2 separate regions of the Homo sapiens genome follow, and region 1 is linked to region 2. Evidence: fine-mapped expression QTL. Tissue or cell type: whole blood. Region 2 holds a variant in brackets; the other region holds the start of a gene. All regions are shown on one strand. Distances are between the middles of the regions.

Region 1 (8,086 bases), 32 kb before region 2:
AGGTGAGCATGTGGAAATGTTTTTCCATTTTATAAAAACGTTACGGCCTAATGTTGCAACAAAGTCGAACTGCAAACATCACAAAGAAACCTCAGAGCAATGTCTGAGTTCTGGAAGGAAATAAATTGGAACATACCCTTATTATCCTGGCAGCCTCCAAAAGGATTCGGCAACGCTCCATGCCAGATTTTTGACTCCATATTTTAAAAGCAGCCTTTGCATTTTGAACAGCCAAATTTACTTCCTTTTCTCCTGAACATGTGAAAGTAGCTATCACTCGGCCTATAAAGAGCGGAAACATCAGTTTTAACTCAAATTGTTGCCACATATTTAAATAAAATATTATCTATCAATATTCTCTTAGTAGTAGTCTTTTTTTTTTTTTTTTTTTTTTTCTTGAGATGGAGTCTTGCTCTGTCACCCAGGCTGGAGTGCAGTGGCGCGATCTCGGCTCACTGCAACCTCTGCCTCCTGAGTTCAAGCGATTCCCCTGCCTCAGCCTCCTGAGTAGCTGGGACTACCAGTGCACGCCACTACGCCCAGCTAATTTTTTGTATTTTTTAGTAGAGACCGGGTTTCACCATGTTGACCAGGATGGTCTTGATCTCCTGACCTTGTGACCCACCCGCCTCAGCCTCCCGAAGTGCCGGAATTACAGGCGTGGGCTACCGTAACTTCTTGTTTTTATGTATGGTTTGATTTAGTGACCATCTCTATACTAGCAGGTTTTTTTGTTTTGTTTTTTTGTTTTTTAAGACGGAGTCTCGCTCTTGTTACCCAGGCTGGAGTGCAATGGCACGATCTTGACTCACTGCAACTTTTGCCTCCTGGGTTCCAGCAATTCTCCTGCCTCAGCCTCCCGAGTAGCTGGGATTACAGGCGCCTGCCACCACACACAGCTAATTTTTGTATTTTTAGTAGAGACGGGATTTCATCATGTTGGCCAGGCTGGTCTTACATTCCTGACCTCAAGTGATTCACCCACCTCTGCCTCCCCAAGTGCTGGGATTACAGCCATGAGCCACCACACCCGGCCTAGCAGTTCTTAACTGTATTTTGCGGTCATTGACATTAGGAGTCTGATAAAAGTTGCAGACCTCTCTCCAGAAAAATCTACTTAAACATATAACAGAATTACAGGAATGTCATGTCCCCTGCCCTAAACTCATCAAGGATTTAGAGTTAAGAACCCCTGCCCTCTACTATTTTACAGTTGAGTTTACTAACATTAACTTCTGATTAAGTTTTGCAACACTCCTAAACATTATCTCAGAATCTCAGGGGTCTTGTAAAATGAAAGTCAAAAGTAATCAGTCTATTGGGTTATAAACTCTGACTGTAAATCCCTTGTCTATATTCTATGTAGGTTATATCATACTACTTGATACTTGATAAATATAGTTAATAAGCAGTAATATCAGGATAAGGCAACCCTAAAGGAACATTTTTTTTTTCTCAAAAATTCCCAGATTTCCTTTTCTTATTCCACCTTTATTCCCTCTCCCTATTCTGGTGCAAATTATGAAACAATCAGTTTTTCTAGGCCCATAGCCCAAGGACTGTACTGCCTCTACCAACAAGAATTCTTTAAGTTTGCCAACTCAGCAAATCCTCTTCACAAGAACTCCTGGGACTCTTTCCAGGGAGATTTCACAAATCTGCAATTTCTGTTACAAACTTGAATAGCCAGCTGGTAAAGGCGGTGGCTGAGGATCACACACACTGTAGGCAATTAAAGCAAAGAGCAATTTTTCTTTCTTTTGTATCAGGATTAAGTCGGGGTAGAGAAGCTGTTTCCTCCTATATAAAGAAGAGATGTGATAATGCCTTCTGGCTCTGCCAAGTCACTGCTCTGTGGTTTAGTGTGGATGGTCAAATACTAAATTCTCCAGTCCCCTGCAAATCAGTTTTATTGCTCTGGCTACATTTTACACAAAATATTTACATTTTTCTCCCCACATATATTCCATAAAACCCAGCAAAATAAACACAACACAAAACCAAAACAAAAAGCCCCTTCTTCCTTATCTCTGTGACCTTCAGAGTTCCCAGAGTAAATCCAGTGCCTAGCACAGTGCTTAGCACACATTAAGCACTGGATTAAAAAGTTTTATTTCAGCAAGATGAATAAATTGTGGAGAGCTCACGTAGACCATGGTGACTATGGTTACCAATACTGCATCATATACTTGAAATTTGCTAAAAGAATAGATCTTAAATATTTCACTATCCAAAAAAAGCCATTAACTATGCAGAAGCAATGGATAATTAGATTGACCGTGGTAACCATTTTGCAAGGTATACATACATTACAACACGTTTTACACCTTAAGTATATACAATTTTTATTTGTTAATTATACTTCAATAAAGCTGGGGAAGAAAGTACTGAATAAAGGTGGGGTTTTTTCCTTTCCCAATTCTGATTAATGTGCAGAAATATTTTAATATTAGAATGTGGAGACAAAGTCCTCATTCGTAGTCATTAGAAACTATCTGTGAGCGTTCCTTCATTCCCAGCACAAATGATTATCTTCCCCACAACCCCGCCCCGTTCTTTTAGAATTCCTCTCCTATGCACACATTTGAAGACAATAATACATCAGTCCTGGTTTTAAAAGGGGGAACAGTTGGCTGGGCTTGGTGGCTCACGGCTGTAATCCCAGCACTTTGGGAGGCTGAGGCGGGAGGATCACCTAAGCTCAGGAGTTCGAGACCAGCCTGAGTAACATGCTGAAAACCCGTCTCTACTAAAAATACAAAAATTAGCCGGACATGGTGGTGGGAGCCTGTAATCCCAGCTACCAGGGAGGCTGAGGCGGGAGAAGCACTTGAGCCCGTAAGGTAGAGGGCGCAGTGAGCTCTGAGATGGTGCCCCTGCACTCCAGCCTGGGCGACAGAGTGAGACCCTGTCTCAAAACAAACAAAAAACAAACAAACAAACAAAACAAACAAAAAAGGAAGTTAACAGAGGCACGACTTCCCCCACCAGTACTTTGCGAACTCTGTTCTGGCCCGGGTAAAACAACTCACGATCCTACCACGCAACTCATCAGCTTTGCTTTTCCTCCCTACCCATCCCTGCCCGGAGGCACTCGCGTTGCCCCAGAATCGCTAGTTGCCTACACACACAACCTTAGACTCTCCACTGTCACTGTCTTGTGCTCAAGTCAACGCTGCAGAACACAGGAAACGGGGGCTGGCCGGGAAATCCGCGCATCCGGCCCCAGGGCGCCCCAGCCTCCCCGGCTCGTTGCAGTTACCGGTTGCTGGCTCGAAAGCTTTCTCGGTACCGGAGGCGTCCGCCGGCTCCACGCGGGCCCCGCCGCGGTAATTGAGCGGCTGCGACACGACGAAGGTGCCAGTGCTCATGGCGGCGACAGGAGAGGGCCGAAGACTGCGAAGAAGCGGGGAGAGCGCGGCCAGGCCTGCTCGGAGAAACATGAGTGGCGGACGCAGCTCCGCGGCAGAGGCTGACGGGCCGCGGGAGGGGCGGGGCCGCGGGAGGGGCGGGGCCGCGGGATCGGTTCTAGGAGATTTTAGGGGCAGTCACTCGATTCCTCTGCGGTCCAGGCCAGGCCCTCCCCTCGCCAGGAGGGTGGAGCAAGACACCACATTCTCCCCACCACCCCGCCATACCCCACACAGTCTCCAGGCGGGAAGAGGACTTCCTTCTTCGTGATCAATATTTGCGTAGCACTTTGCAAGTGTTTTCGGGTTCATCATTGCATGTAAGCATCCTAGGATCCCATTCTTAATCCTATCGCCTGAAGAAGGCAGAGGATTGGAGTGCCAAGAGTCTTTGGTGGTTACTTCACTGCTAAACCACCGTTTCTGTAATTGTATAATGCTTTTTAAAGGGTGACAGTAAAAAGCAAGGGGACTGTGAACGAGATAGATGATATTGTGATCTGAAACTGCTTTTTAAATTCTTAAAGAGAGACTGGGCGCTGTGGCTCTCACCAAGGCTGGAGGATCGCTTGAGCCCAGGAGTTTGCGGGCAACAGAGAGAGATCCCGTGTCTATAAAAAAATAAAATAAAAATAATAAAAATTGGGCCGGGCGCGGTGGCTCACGCCTGTAATCCTAGCACTTTGGGAGGCCAAGGCGGGCAGATCACCTGAGGTCAGGAGTTCGAGACCAGCCTGACCAAAATGGTAAAACCCCGTCTCTACTAAAAATACAAAAATTAGCTGGGTGTGGTGGCGGGCGCCTGTAATCCCAGCTACTTGGGAGGCTGAGGTGGGAAAATCGCTTGAACCCGGGAGACGGGTTGCAGTGAGCCGAGACTATGCCATTGCACTCCAGTCTGGGTGACAAGAGTGAAACTCAGAAAAAAAAAAAATTATCCAGGTGTGGTGGCACACGCCTGTGGCCCCAGGTACTTGGGCGGCTAAGGTGGGAGGATCCCCTGAGCCCCGGGGGTCCAAGCTTGCAGTGAGCTATAATCGTGCCACTGCACTCAGGCCTGGGCAACAGAGCGAGACCCTGTCTCAAAATAAATAAATTCTGAAGGAGCAATGTAAATGCTATTAATGACAAATATTGATAGAAACAGAAGCCTAACATACAGAATACGAAGAGCAAAGGCCACAGGAAAAAGTGTCAGGAAACAAAATGCCTTCTGTAAGACAAAGCAGCCACCCAGAGGCACTCACAGGTCTGTCAGCTGAGGGATCTTGCACAAAGGTTCATTCTTCTCACCAAACTTCCATGCACCTCCAGTAGAGACTTTGACAAACAGAAAGTAATTGGCAATTTGGACATTTCTTTTAGGATTGTTTCTCTTCTGGGGGCTGCTGTCTTTCTCAATGTTTTTTCCTTTACCTGCCAGCTCACCAGCGCAATATTAGGGAGTGTGGTTTTCAGGTTTAGAGTATATATAATGTATTCTGATCAAGTTTTCTGGCACTCTATACCAGTTTGTTCACTTTTTCAGTGCTACTGAGATGTGTAGGTCTTGGTCCTCAGATGGAAACAGCAGTGCCCAAACTCAGAATACCTGAGGCCACACTCACATATTATTTTATTATTGTCCATTGCAAACAGAATTGAAACATATCAGGAGTTGGTGACGAGCAGCACTATAGATTTCCAAGATCACTGAATGGTCATTTAGGTACAGAAACTATACGTCTCAAATTTTATGGGACAATTTCTATTTAAAAGATTCTGTCCCCAACCAATGCATTTTGACTTGTCACATCATAATTCCTGATGTTTGTTTTGGAAATGTGGTCGTGATGTCTATTGAATTAATTCATAGATGATAAGACTGACAAACCTCTGGCCAGGCACAGGACTCACACCTGTAATCTCAACACTTTGGGAGACCGTGGCAGGAGGATCGCTTGAGGCCAGGAGTTCAAGACCAGCCTGGGCAACATAGTGAGACTCTGTCTCTACAAAATATTTTTAAAAATTAGCCGAGCATGGTGGCACAAGCGTGTAGTCCTGACTACTCAAGAGACTGAGGTGGAGGATTGCTTGAGGCCAGGAGTTCAAGACTGGAGTGAGCGATCATGGCACCACTGCTCCAGCCTGGGCAACAGAGTAAGACCCTTCCCCAAAGAAAACAGATCTCCTCCAAAATATCTACCTTTTAAATATCTAGCTGTTCCTCTTACCTATCTGTGCTTTTATTATTAAATTATTATTTTTAACTTTTAGGTTCAGGGGTACATGTAAAGATTTGTTACATAGGTAAACTTGTGTCATGGGGGTGTGTTGTATAGATTATTTCATTACCCAGGTATTAAGCCTAGTACCCATGAGTTATTTTTCCTGATCCTCTCCCTCCTTCCACCCTTATTATTAGATTATTAATGTATTATTTTTCATTAGCAAAATCCAACATGTAGAAAGAGCTTTATAGGTTACAGAGCCCTTTCACATTTACTTTCTCACATGAAGCTCATAATAACCCTACAAAAGAAAAGGAAACTAACAGAGATTGAGCTAGGAGGTAGTATGTGGCACTTTGTCAAATATCTCAGTGACAATCATGCAAGATAGGTTTTATCATCCCCATTGTACAGATGAGGAAACTAATAGAAAGGTCGTAGAGCTTCCCCATAAAGGAGCTAAGGCTGGAGTCCAGCTCTGTGCAAGTCCAAAGTAAATTTCTTCTTACTACACCAGGTCGAGATGTTGACCCCATGAAGGTTGCTATCAAAATTCACTCTTATGTTGGTGGATATTTATCAGAAACCCAGAAATCTGGTTCTAGGGAGATTTAAAGGACATGTAAACTTCTTAGGATATTTGTCAGCACTACCCAGTAAGCAGCCCAGAAGTCACAGAGGATGCTGGCCAGTTTACAAGTTCAGGGTGAAATTCAAAGGGACAAAGATGCCACAAGGAGCAGAAGGAATGCCAAAAGAGAAACACCTCTTAGATGGGTGTGTGTTGGAGGGCAGATTTGGGGGTAAAAAGAGATAGAAAAGGAGTGGAATCATTGCTAAAGGGGTAGAAGATCCAAGGAGAAACTGCCTGCCTCACAACTTGCTTAAAGCCAAACTTGGGTGCCACTAAAGCCCCCTCCTTTTCCACATTTCCTTCCCCAGACAACCAGAGGAGGAAAAGAAAAGCAACTGGATCCCCTTCTGCCACCTCCAGGTCTCCTAAAGGAAGAAGTCCTTGGGAACCCATACTGTGTGATCCAGGGTCCTTCACTGGCCTCTCCCTCAGGTCATCCAGTTGTCAATTTGTTGCTTTGGCTTAGTTTCACCATTAGCAGTACTCTTCTTGGACACAACCTCCAGAGTAAAAGCAAATGCCGGATGCGGTGGCTCACACCTGTAATCCCAGCACTTTGGGAGGCGGAGGTGGGTGGATTGCCTGAGCTCAGGAGTTCCAGACCAGCCTGGACAACATGGTGAGACCCCTGTCTCTACTAAAAATACAAAAAAAAAAAAAAAAAAAAGCCAAGTGTGGTGGCGCACACCTCTAGTCCCAGCTGCTGGGGGGTTGAAGCGCGAGGATCGCTTGAACCTGGAGGCAGAGGCTGCAGTGAGCCAAGATTGCAACATTGCACTCCAGCCTGGGCGACAGAGCAAGACTCGCTCTCCAAAAACAAAAAAAAAAAAAAAAAAAGAAAGAAAAGATCTTTAGGGAGTACTAGCTCTTAGTCTGTCCTCTAGAACTATTAATACATCAAACACACACACACCACATTTATTTTTATTTCCTGAACAATAGTATGTTTACTACTGTTGCAACTCCTTCAGTGGGGAGCCAGAAAACCATCCACACAAAAAGAAAGGAAAAAATTACTCAGAATCCTGTTCCTGCCCATTTTAACAGGGCCTTTCACTTAACAATAATTTACAGATTGAATTTTATTTTAAGCCTGAGTGTCCTCACATTCTTCATATACAGAATGTAATTTTCTCACTGAAGACCTAACAGGTTTCCTAATCTAGGCAGCCTGACACTAGGATTAGGTCCTTAATGAATATTTGTTGAATGAACACATCAGTCAGGTGTTACAAACCAGGACTTTGAAATCACTGCGCTGATGAGGATGTCCCCTAATGCTACTTAGGCATCTCTGCTTGGATAATCTAGTCTTTTTCATTTTTAACAGCTTTTTAGGCTATAATACTCATATTTTCAAAAATAGGTTTAATTTATAAACCTGAGGTAATATGAAACAGTATGTGAAAGTGGTCTAAAAATTAGAAAGCACTATACAATTGCTATTATAATAACAATGTTCATAGTTTGCAGTGCCTTCGTGTTTTTCTCAAATGAAATTCAGGGTCATTGACTTTGGAATTTGTTCTTGGAGTTGATAATCAGCTAGAGGCTAAAGGCTACTGAGCTTACAGAAAAATTTAGAATCTGTCTGTTATCTAAGACAGTAGCATTATATAGAAATTATTCCAACTCTTCCAAATGTATAAGATATAAAAATGAGAGATTCAGAAGGTTTTTTTAAAAAAAGGATATGATTTTTGTTTTCTGGGAAAGGATCTCACTCTGTCATCCAGGCTGGAGTGCAGTGGTGTGATAACTTCTCACTGCAGCCTCAATATCCTGGGATCAATCAATCCTCCCGCTTCAGCCTCCTGAGTACCTGGGAA
Region 2 (8,093 bases):
AGTTGATACTTATTTTCCTCAGCACTTTGAAGATACTTTTCTACTGTCTTCTGGACTTTATGGTGCTGATAAGAAAGAAGTTTGCTGTTGGTTTAACAATGATTACCTTGAAAATTATGTGTTTTTTCTCACTGGTAGAATACTCACATTTAAGTAGACATTTGATGAATGTGCATATTTATTGATAAGACTCCACACAGGACTCCTAATTCCATAGATTATGCGGGGAGGATCATGGTACAAACATCCTTCTCCCTTATGAAGGGGCATGGCAGAAAATGAAGGCTATTGTGACTAAAAGGAAGCTCTGCGAGATTAACAACATATAACTATAACCTTGTCTCCAAGGGAGATCTAAGAGTGCCCCCACAAGAATCTGAGAGACTGTAATAGGATATGAAGAGAACAGCTGAGGACCCTCATTTTTATTTATTTATTTATATTTAATTTTTTTTCAGACATCAGTGTTACTTGCCAAGACCCTCATTTTTAAACTCCAACGAGTTATTACGTTCCTTTCCACTCTTGCTTTCCAATTCCTACACCAAGACAACTCTGTATTTTGAGTATATGAGTCAAGTATGGCAAAAAGTACAGTACCTTAAAAACTTTTATTTTAGTCCTTCCTGGCCCATGCTAAAACTTATATCTAGAAATACGGCAAAACAAAATGAAACAGATCTCTCCTTGTACATAAAACAGCTAAAAATTTGGCCTCTTTATTGATCTTATGTCATGTATTTGGCTTGAAAAAAAAACAACAACAAAACAAACAGTTACAAGGGTTAAACAAACTAAATTTTTCTTCTAAATCTCTAAATGCTCATAGACAGCCAACTTGCAGGGCATACACAGTGCCTTGAGAGTCGGTCCCACAGAAAATACTTATGTAAATGAAACAAGAAGGATGCTATTTGTTTTTCATTACATAAACATTACCTGAACTTAACTAATCAATCCACTTATTTGATAAAAATCATCTAGGACCAAAAGCACTATCAAGTTTGCTGGCTGCCATTTTCACTCTAATCATACCCAAAAGGCTTAGAAATAATTCAAAACTAGAAAGAGGCCCAAGTAGTAAGGCTACCTATGGCTCTTGCTACAAAACAGTTGCCAGTCTGATGTGTGTGTGTCTAGAAAGAATGATAGAAAATAAAGAGTTCTTGAGTTCAAGAGAACTTCCCAGAAGGAGGTGGTGGGCCAAGAAATCCACCTGCCTGCTTGGTGGCGGCTCGTGAAGGGGCAAGGCCGAGAATCTTCTGAATGTTCTGTGAAGAAAGCACAGTAAGGATTGGGTTTTAATATCAAATATACAGAAGATGTGTTTTATGTAGCTCTCAGGCAAAGGGAACTCATACTCATATAGATTAAAGGAACCATTATGACCTGCAATAGGATGATTATCACTTTTTTTTTTTTTTGAGATGGAGTCTCGCTCTGTCACCCAGGCTGGAGTGCAGTGGAGCAATCTTGGCTCACTGCAAGCTCTGCCTCCCAGGTTCACGTCATTCTCCTGCCTCAGCCTCCCGAGTAGCTGGGACTACAGGTGCCCGCCACCACACCCGGCTAATTTTCTGTATATTTAGTAGAGACAGGGTTTCATCATGTTAGCCAGGATGGTCTCGATCTCCTGACCTCATGATCTGCCCACCTCGGCCTCCCAAAGTGCTGGGATTACAGGAGGGAGTCACCGCACCTGGCAATCACTATGTTATTTTTTAAAAAGGCCTACAATGTAATGAAAATCATAGAACAGTAAAAGCCTTCCTTACCTGATGAGACCTTGGTCTACTAATGAAAGTGGTTGATTTTTTTCGAGTAGAGAATCATAAAAGGAGATAATTTTTTTAACAAGAAGCATATGAAGAATATTCATTAGCTATTTCTTATGGGCATTTTCTTTGAGTACGGGTCTGCTGGCTGGATTTGTCATTACTGCACTGTCTATAATTTTCAGTTTCGGCCGGGTGTGGTGGCTCACGCCTGTAATCCCAGCACTTTGGGAGGCTGAGGTGGGTAGATCACTTGAGGCTAGGAGTTCAAGACGAGCTTGGACAACATGGTAAAACCCCATCTCTACTTTTTAGTAGAAAAATACAAAAATTAGCTGGGCATTGTGGCATACACCTGTAGTCCTAGCTACTCGGGAGGGTGAGGCATGAGAGTCCCTTGAACCTAGGAGGCAGAGGCTGCGTGAGCCAAGACTGCACCACTGCATTCCAGCCTGGGCAACAGAGTGAGATTCTGTCTAAAAAAAAAAAAAAAAAAAAAAAACCAGTTTCAATTTCTTTACAGTGTTGAAAGTACTCAGAAACCTGCAAAGCACTCTGAGTTCAGAATTCTCCTAAATTTTCAGGACCCTGTCATCTTTTTCCATTGTTTCACCTACATCTAATGCAATTTTTTAAGAAACTCACTTTTATACTTTTATTCAGTTTTTAAAAACATACTTTGTTCTCATAATTCTTTTTTTTTTTTTTTGAGATGGAGTCTCACTCTGTCATCCAAGCTAGAGTACAGTGGCACGATGTCGGCTCACAGTAACCTCTGCCTCCTGGGTCAAGCGATTCTGCCTGCCTCAGCCTCCTAAGTAGCTGAGATTACAGGTGCCTGCTATCACACCCAGCTAATTTTTGTATTTTTTTTAGTAGAGAAGGGGTTTCACCATGTTGGCCAGGCTGGTCTTGAACTCCTGACCTCAGGTGATCCGCCTGCCTCAGCCTCCCAAAGTGCTGGGATTACAGGCATGAGCCACTGCGCCCAGCCAATGTAGCATTTTATAAGAGGAAAAAAACCTTAGAGATCCTGATTATTCTTGCCCAGTTCCTTCATTTTATATTTGAAGAAACTAAAACTCAGAAAGGTATGATGGATGGCTTATCCAGAATTACAAAGCTAAATTAAGAGCACAGTTAGAATTTAAACCTGTTGTGTTTCGACCCTTAATCTAATGGATTCTCTTACACAGTAGTTTCTGTGTTAAAGTTCTGCTCTTCAGAACAAACTCCATTCTGTGGTAGGCAGGTTTGCATGCATTAAACTATTCATCCAGTAGTTACTGAGTACCTACTAGATATAAGATACTGTGAGAATATCCATAACCAGGCTTCTCTACAAGCATACACACCCTCAATCCTTCATCATGAAGAATGATGACTACTATGGATAAGAATGTGTATTGAGGACGGCCGGGCGCGGTGGCTCACGCCTGTAATCCCAGCACTTTGGGAGGCCGAGGCGGGCGGATCACGAGGTCAGGAGATCGAGATCATCCTGGCTAACACGGTGAAACCCCGTCTGTACTAAAAATACACACACACAAAAAAAAAAAAATTAGCCGGGAGAGGTGGCGGGCGCCTGTAGTCCCAGCTACTCAGGAGGCTGAGGCAGGAGAATGGCACGAACCCCAGGGGGCGGAGCCTGCAGTGAGCCGAGATCGCGCCACTGCACTCCAGCCTGGGCGA[C/T]GGCGAGACTCCGTCTCAAAACAAAAACAAAACAAAACAAAAAAAAAAAAAGAATGTGTATTGAGGTAACACTGTTAGAATACAACAGAATGTTTAAATATGGAGGACATAACTTTAAGGACTCATCTAAATTATATTTACCATAAAATATTTCAGTACATACATTCAACAATACTATAGCTCATTCTTTAAGAAGACATCTGAAATGAGTGAAGAAAAAAATCAATCGTTAGTACATTAGGATACCTCTCCTTAGTAAAGATGGAGAATGATCAGACTTTGTATTTCTTTTTCTGAGACGTGGTCTTGCTCTGTCACTGAGGCTGGAGTGCAGTGGTGTGATCACAGCTCACTGCAACCTCCACTTCCCGGGCTCAAGCATTCTTCCCACCTCAGCCTCCCGAGGAGCTGGGACTAACAGGCATGCCACCATGCCCAGCTAATTTTTGCATTTTTAATAGAGTTGGGGTTTTGCCATGTTGGCCACGCTGGTCTCAAACTCTTGGGCTCCAGTGATCTGCTCACCTCAGCCTCCCAGGTGCTGGCATTATAGGGGTGAGCCACTATGCCCGGCCTACTTTGCAATACTTTTTTTTTTTTTGAGACAGAGTCTCGCTCTGTCGCCAGGCTGGAGTGCAGTGGTGCGATCTTGGCTCACTGCAACCTCCGCCTCCCAGGTTCAAGCGATCCTCCTGCCTCAACCTCCCGAGTAGCAGGGAATACAGGGGCACATCATCATGCCCAGCTAATTTTTTGTATTTTTAGTAGAGACGGGGTATCACCATGTTGGCCAGGATGGTCTCGATCTCTTGACTTCGTGATCCGCCTGTCTCAGCCTCCCAAAGTGCTGGAATTACAGGCATGAGCCACCGTACCTGGCCTGCATTACTTTTATAATAAAAATAGCTCCTTAAAGCTCACCTCTAAAAAACCCATTACACAAAGCAGTAAAAAGACCAAATGATGTCACTAGTTTGCAATTTCTTTATTTAATTAATATTTCCTGAGCACCTACAATGTATTTAGCACTAAGCTAGGCATTAAGGGAAATTGCTTTAAAGATAAAATTTGAAACAGTAAGACATACAGAATTAGCTGCTGATAAACATATTTGTCTAGTTAACAAATACAGTAATATAGCCTAGACAAAATACACAAGGGATTCTTGCTCAGTTATTCTGAAGGGTCAAATAGATGAGTCCTTATCATTTTAGAGATTAAAAACCAATGTAAAAATGTTGGATGCCCTTTATAGGTTTACCGTGATTTAAAGAAGATGATTGAAAAAATAAAAAATAATATTTTGAAGAAACAAGAAACTGAACTGGTAGTCTGTTGAATTTCATTTACTAACTCAAAATATTTAAATGACTACTGAGGGTAAGCCACTGCTCTAGACGGGAATATCTCAAATAGCAATAGCAGCAACAAAAAAGTGTTAAAAATGAGACACTTCAGTAGCCACAGCCAAAGTACATGGAAATCCAGGCAACTCTATACTTTCCTTTACTCTATACTTTCCTTTCCTTGTGGCTCTTGCCACAGACCCGTTTTGGGAACACTAAATTAAATGTATCGGTGTTACATTACACAGGTATTTGTATTTTAACACAAACATTCTGCATTTACTGCATGCAATTTTATCCTTTCGTGAAATTCTAAACTAATCTGTTTAAATTCCTATAGTCTCACAGGTGAAACCTAGGTCTTCCATTTTTCTCAGACAGATTTCCCCTGCTTTTCCATCAGTGAAATCTTTTCCCCTAAAACCCATGTAGGAACTAAGTGATGGTCTCAAGATGCAAGAGCCACAGGTAAAAGGACCAGACGTCACTAATATCTCTACAGTAGTAACATCCTACATTTCTACACACTTTAAAGTTTGCAAACAGTTCTAAGGACTAGATAGTAGTCCTTAGTTATCCCTGCTGTTGAGATGAGAAAGTTGATGTAGGGAGAGGTTACAAGTCAGAAAGTGAACTGATATAACTCAAAGTGCAGTTTTCCTTTATTAAGCCACCTCTCTGTAACAGACTGTTATCTTAGGAATAAAAAAATCACATAAAGAAGCAAAAAAAAAAAAAAAAAGGAATAAAAAATCGTGTAACAGGCCTATTTTTTTAAAAAATCACAATTATGCTGTTAAATGAGCAAATGGTTTCTCTCTCTCTCTCTCTCTCTCTCTCTCTATATATATATATATAAACATACACATATAAAATATAGTTGCTATGCAAAAAACCCATAGAATGTACAATGCAAAGAATGGACCCTAACATAAACTATGGATTTGGGGGTAATAATTATATGTCAGTGTAGATTAATCAATTGTAACAAATGTACCACTCTGGTGGAGAAAGTTGATAGAGGGGTGTGCTATGCATATGTGGGGGCAAGGCATATATATGAAATCTCTGTACCTTCCACTCAATTTTGCTGTGAACCTAAAACTGTTCTAAAAAATAAGGTCTATAAAAGGGAATATAAAGTATTTAAGAATATATAGTAAGATAACAGTTGTATTAATAATAGTTGTATACTTTTTCTCATATCTTGCCTTCCCCAACTTTTTGAAATACTGCTAAATGGAATACTTTTAAAATAAAGAAAAATATTCCTGTGGGTGCTATTTTAAAGTGAAGGTCATAGTATGAAGCTAAAAAAAAGAATAACAACAATAATAATGGTTAACAGTTACTGAGTACTTACACTCTGCAAGGCATTGTTCTAAGACCTTTATATGTATGTCCTCATTTAAATCCTCACAACTTAATGAGGTGGACATCATTATCCTTGCATGTAGATAAGAAAAATAAGATACCAATGGTCAGGCTGTAATTCAATAAATACTCACTGAATACCACACTGTACAGCAGGCACTTTTGTATATATTATCTCATTACATCTTTCAACAATCTCATCCATTAAACTTAACCTGACTGCTTTCCTATAATCTCTCAATTTTTCTTTCTTCTTGAGGTCAAGTTTTCAGGCCTTGTTAATTAGCAAGATTTAGTTTAGAAATATGCATTTAGGCCAGGAGTGGTGGCTCACACCTGTAATCCCAGCACCTTGGGAGGCCGAGGTGGGTGGATCATCTGAGATCAGGAGTTTGAGACCAGCCTGGCCAACATGGTGAAACCCGTCTCCACATGCGCCTGTAATCCTAGCTACTTGGGAGGCTGAGGCAGGAGAATCATTTGAAACCCGGGAGGCAGAGGTTGTAGGAGATCGTGCAGCTGCACTCCAACCTGGGTGACAGAGCAAGACTCCATCTCAAAAAAAACAAAAAAAAAGAAAGAAATATGCATTTAGCTAAAAGATAGGAGTTTTAATATATAATAAAGATGCTATGAAAGAAAATAGAAATGCAAAATATAGTAAGATGCAATCAAGTTTTGGAAAAATGTAAAACAATTATTTTGAATTCCTGTCCAGTCCTGTATAACAGGGTAACAAATGAAGAATGTATACCCAGAAGAGAAAAACAAAGGAAAAACATTTTCCCATAATTGTGTCTTCTACTGGCAGGAAAACCTGAAAAATACAAACACAGGATTTGTGTTCTTTCCTCTTTACCATGATTAAGAACCAGTGATCAAGAAACGGAAGTTGTTGGTTGCTAACTGGATATTTTGGGAAGACCCAGGTCAATGGCAATAAACACATTCTGCTGAATTTTATTCCTTAGTCATTTAGCTAAAATAACACACCTATGGCAATCCTCAGTTCACTCTGTTAGTTTCTCTGACATCTGGCAACCAGTCTTCACTTCCAATTAATCGCAATATCTCATTAATTCCCACAATGTAATCTTTACTCTATCAACAAAGCTGTATATAAAATCTAATCACTTCAAAACGACCCTTTCCAATATTACCAGGGCTCTCACATTATATCTGACTAGACTATTTGGGAAAAATAATGTAGAGATTAAATATTTACTAAAAAAACCTTATCGTACAAGCTTGATATCGCTGAAATATTATTGGGTTAGCAATCAGAAAACTTGGGTTACAGTGCTGACAAACTAGACAATAAAACAATAGGAGTATCTTTTCATTTTACCAAATCTCAATGTCCTTACTGTTAGAAAAAAGAGGGTTGACTAGATCAATCATTTTCAGACCCTTAAAGCCTTTAATAACTCTTTTATTTTTTAATTTTTAAAATAAATTTCTATTCTTTTTTATTTTTATTTTTTGAGACGGAGTCTTACTCTGTCGTCCAGGCTGGAGTGCAGTGGTGTGATCTCAGCTCACTGCAACCTCCACCACCTCCTGAGTTCAAGCAATTCTCTTCCTTAGCCTCCCAAGTAGCTGGGATTACAGGCGCCTGCCACCATGCCCGGCTAATTTTGTATTTTTAGTAGAGACAGGGTTTCACCATCTTGGCCAGGCTGGTCTTGAACTTCTGACCTCGTGATCCACCTGCCTTGGCCTCCCAAAGTGCTAGGATTACAGGTGTGAGCCACCGCGCTCGGCCCATCGTTTTTTGTTTTGTTTTGTTTTGTTTTGTTTTTTTGCACACAATTCACAGAGATTAACAGAAGCCTTTTGAAAAATAAAATGTGATGTATAAAAGCCCAATACAGAAAACAAATAAAATAGGGTAGAAAACGGAAGC

Evidence for each region. PIP is the estimated chance that this variant, and not a neighbour inherited with it, causes the effect.
Region 1: ALDH9A1 starts here. The variant in region 2 is fine-mapped to the expression of ALDH9A1 in whole blood (TOPMed, PIP above 0.99).

The regions. Positions count from the first base shown.
Region 1 is chr1:165,695,116-165,703,201 of GRCh38, forward strand. ALDH9A1 (aldehyde dehydrogenase 9 family member A1) reads right to left here and starts at 3,447. Exons shown (of 11, transcript NM_000696.4): 1 at 3,263-3,447; 2 at 137-282. The coding sequence starts at 3,443. It also overlaps the pseudogene CA14P1. RefSeq lists enhancers at 3,183-3,412, 3,256-3,838, 3,703-3,882 and a silencer at 3,443-3,632.
Region 2 is chr1:165,726,851-165,734,943 of GRCh38, forward strand. TMCO1 (transmembrane and coiled-coil domains 1) reads right to left here. Exons shown (of 7, transcript NM_019026.6): 7 at 1-1,271. The coding sequence ends at 1,173. Among named protein-coding and RNA genes, the nearest start is that of ALDH9A1, 32 kb to the left of the region's middle. The variant C/T (reference allele first, on the strand shown) is at 3,468.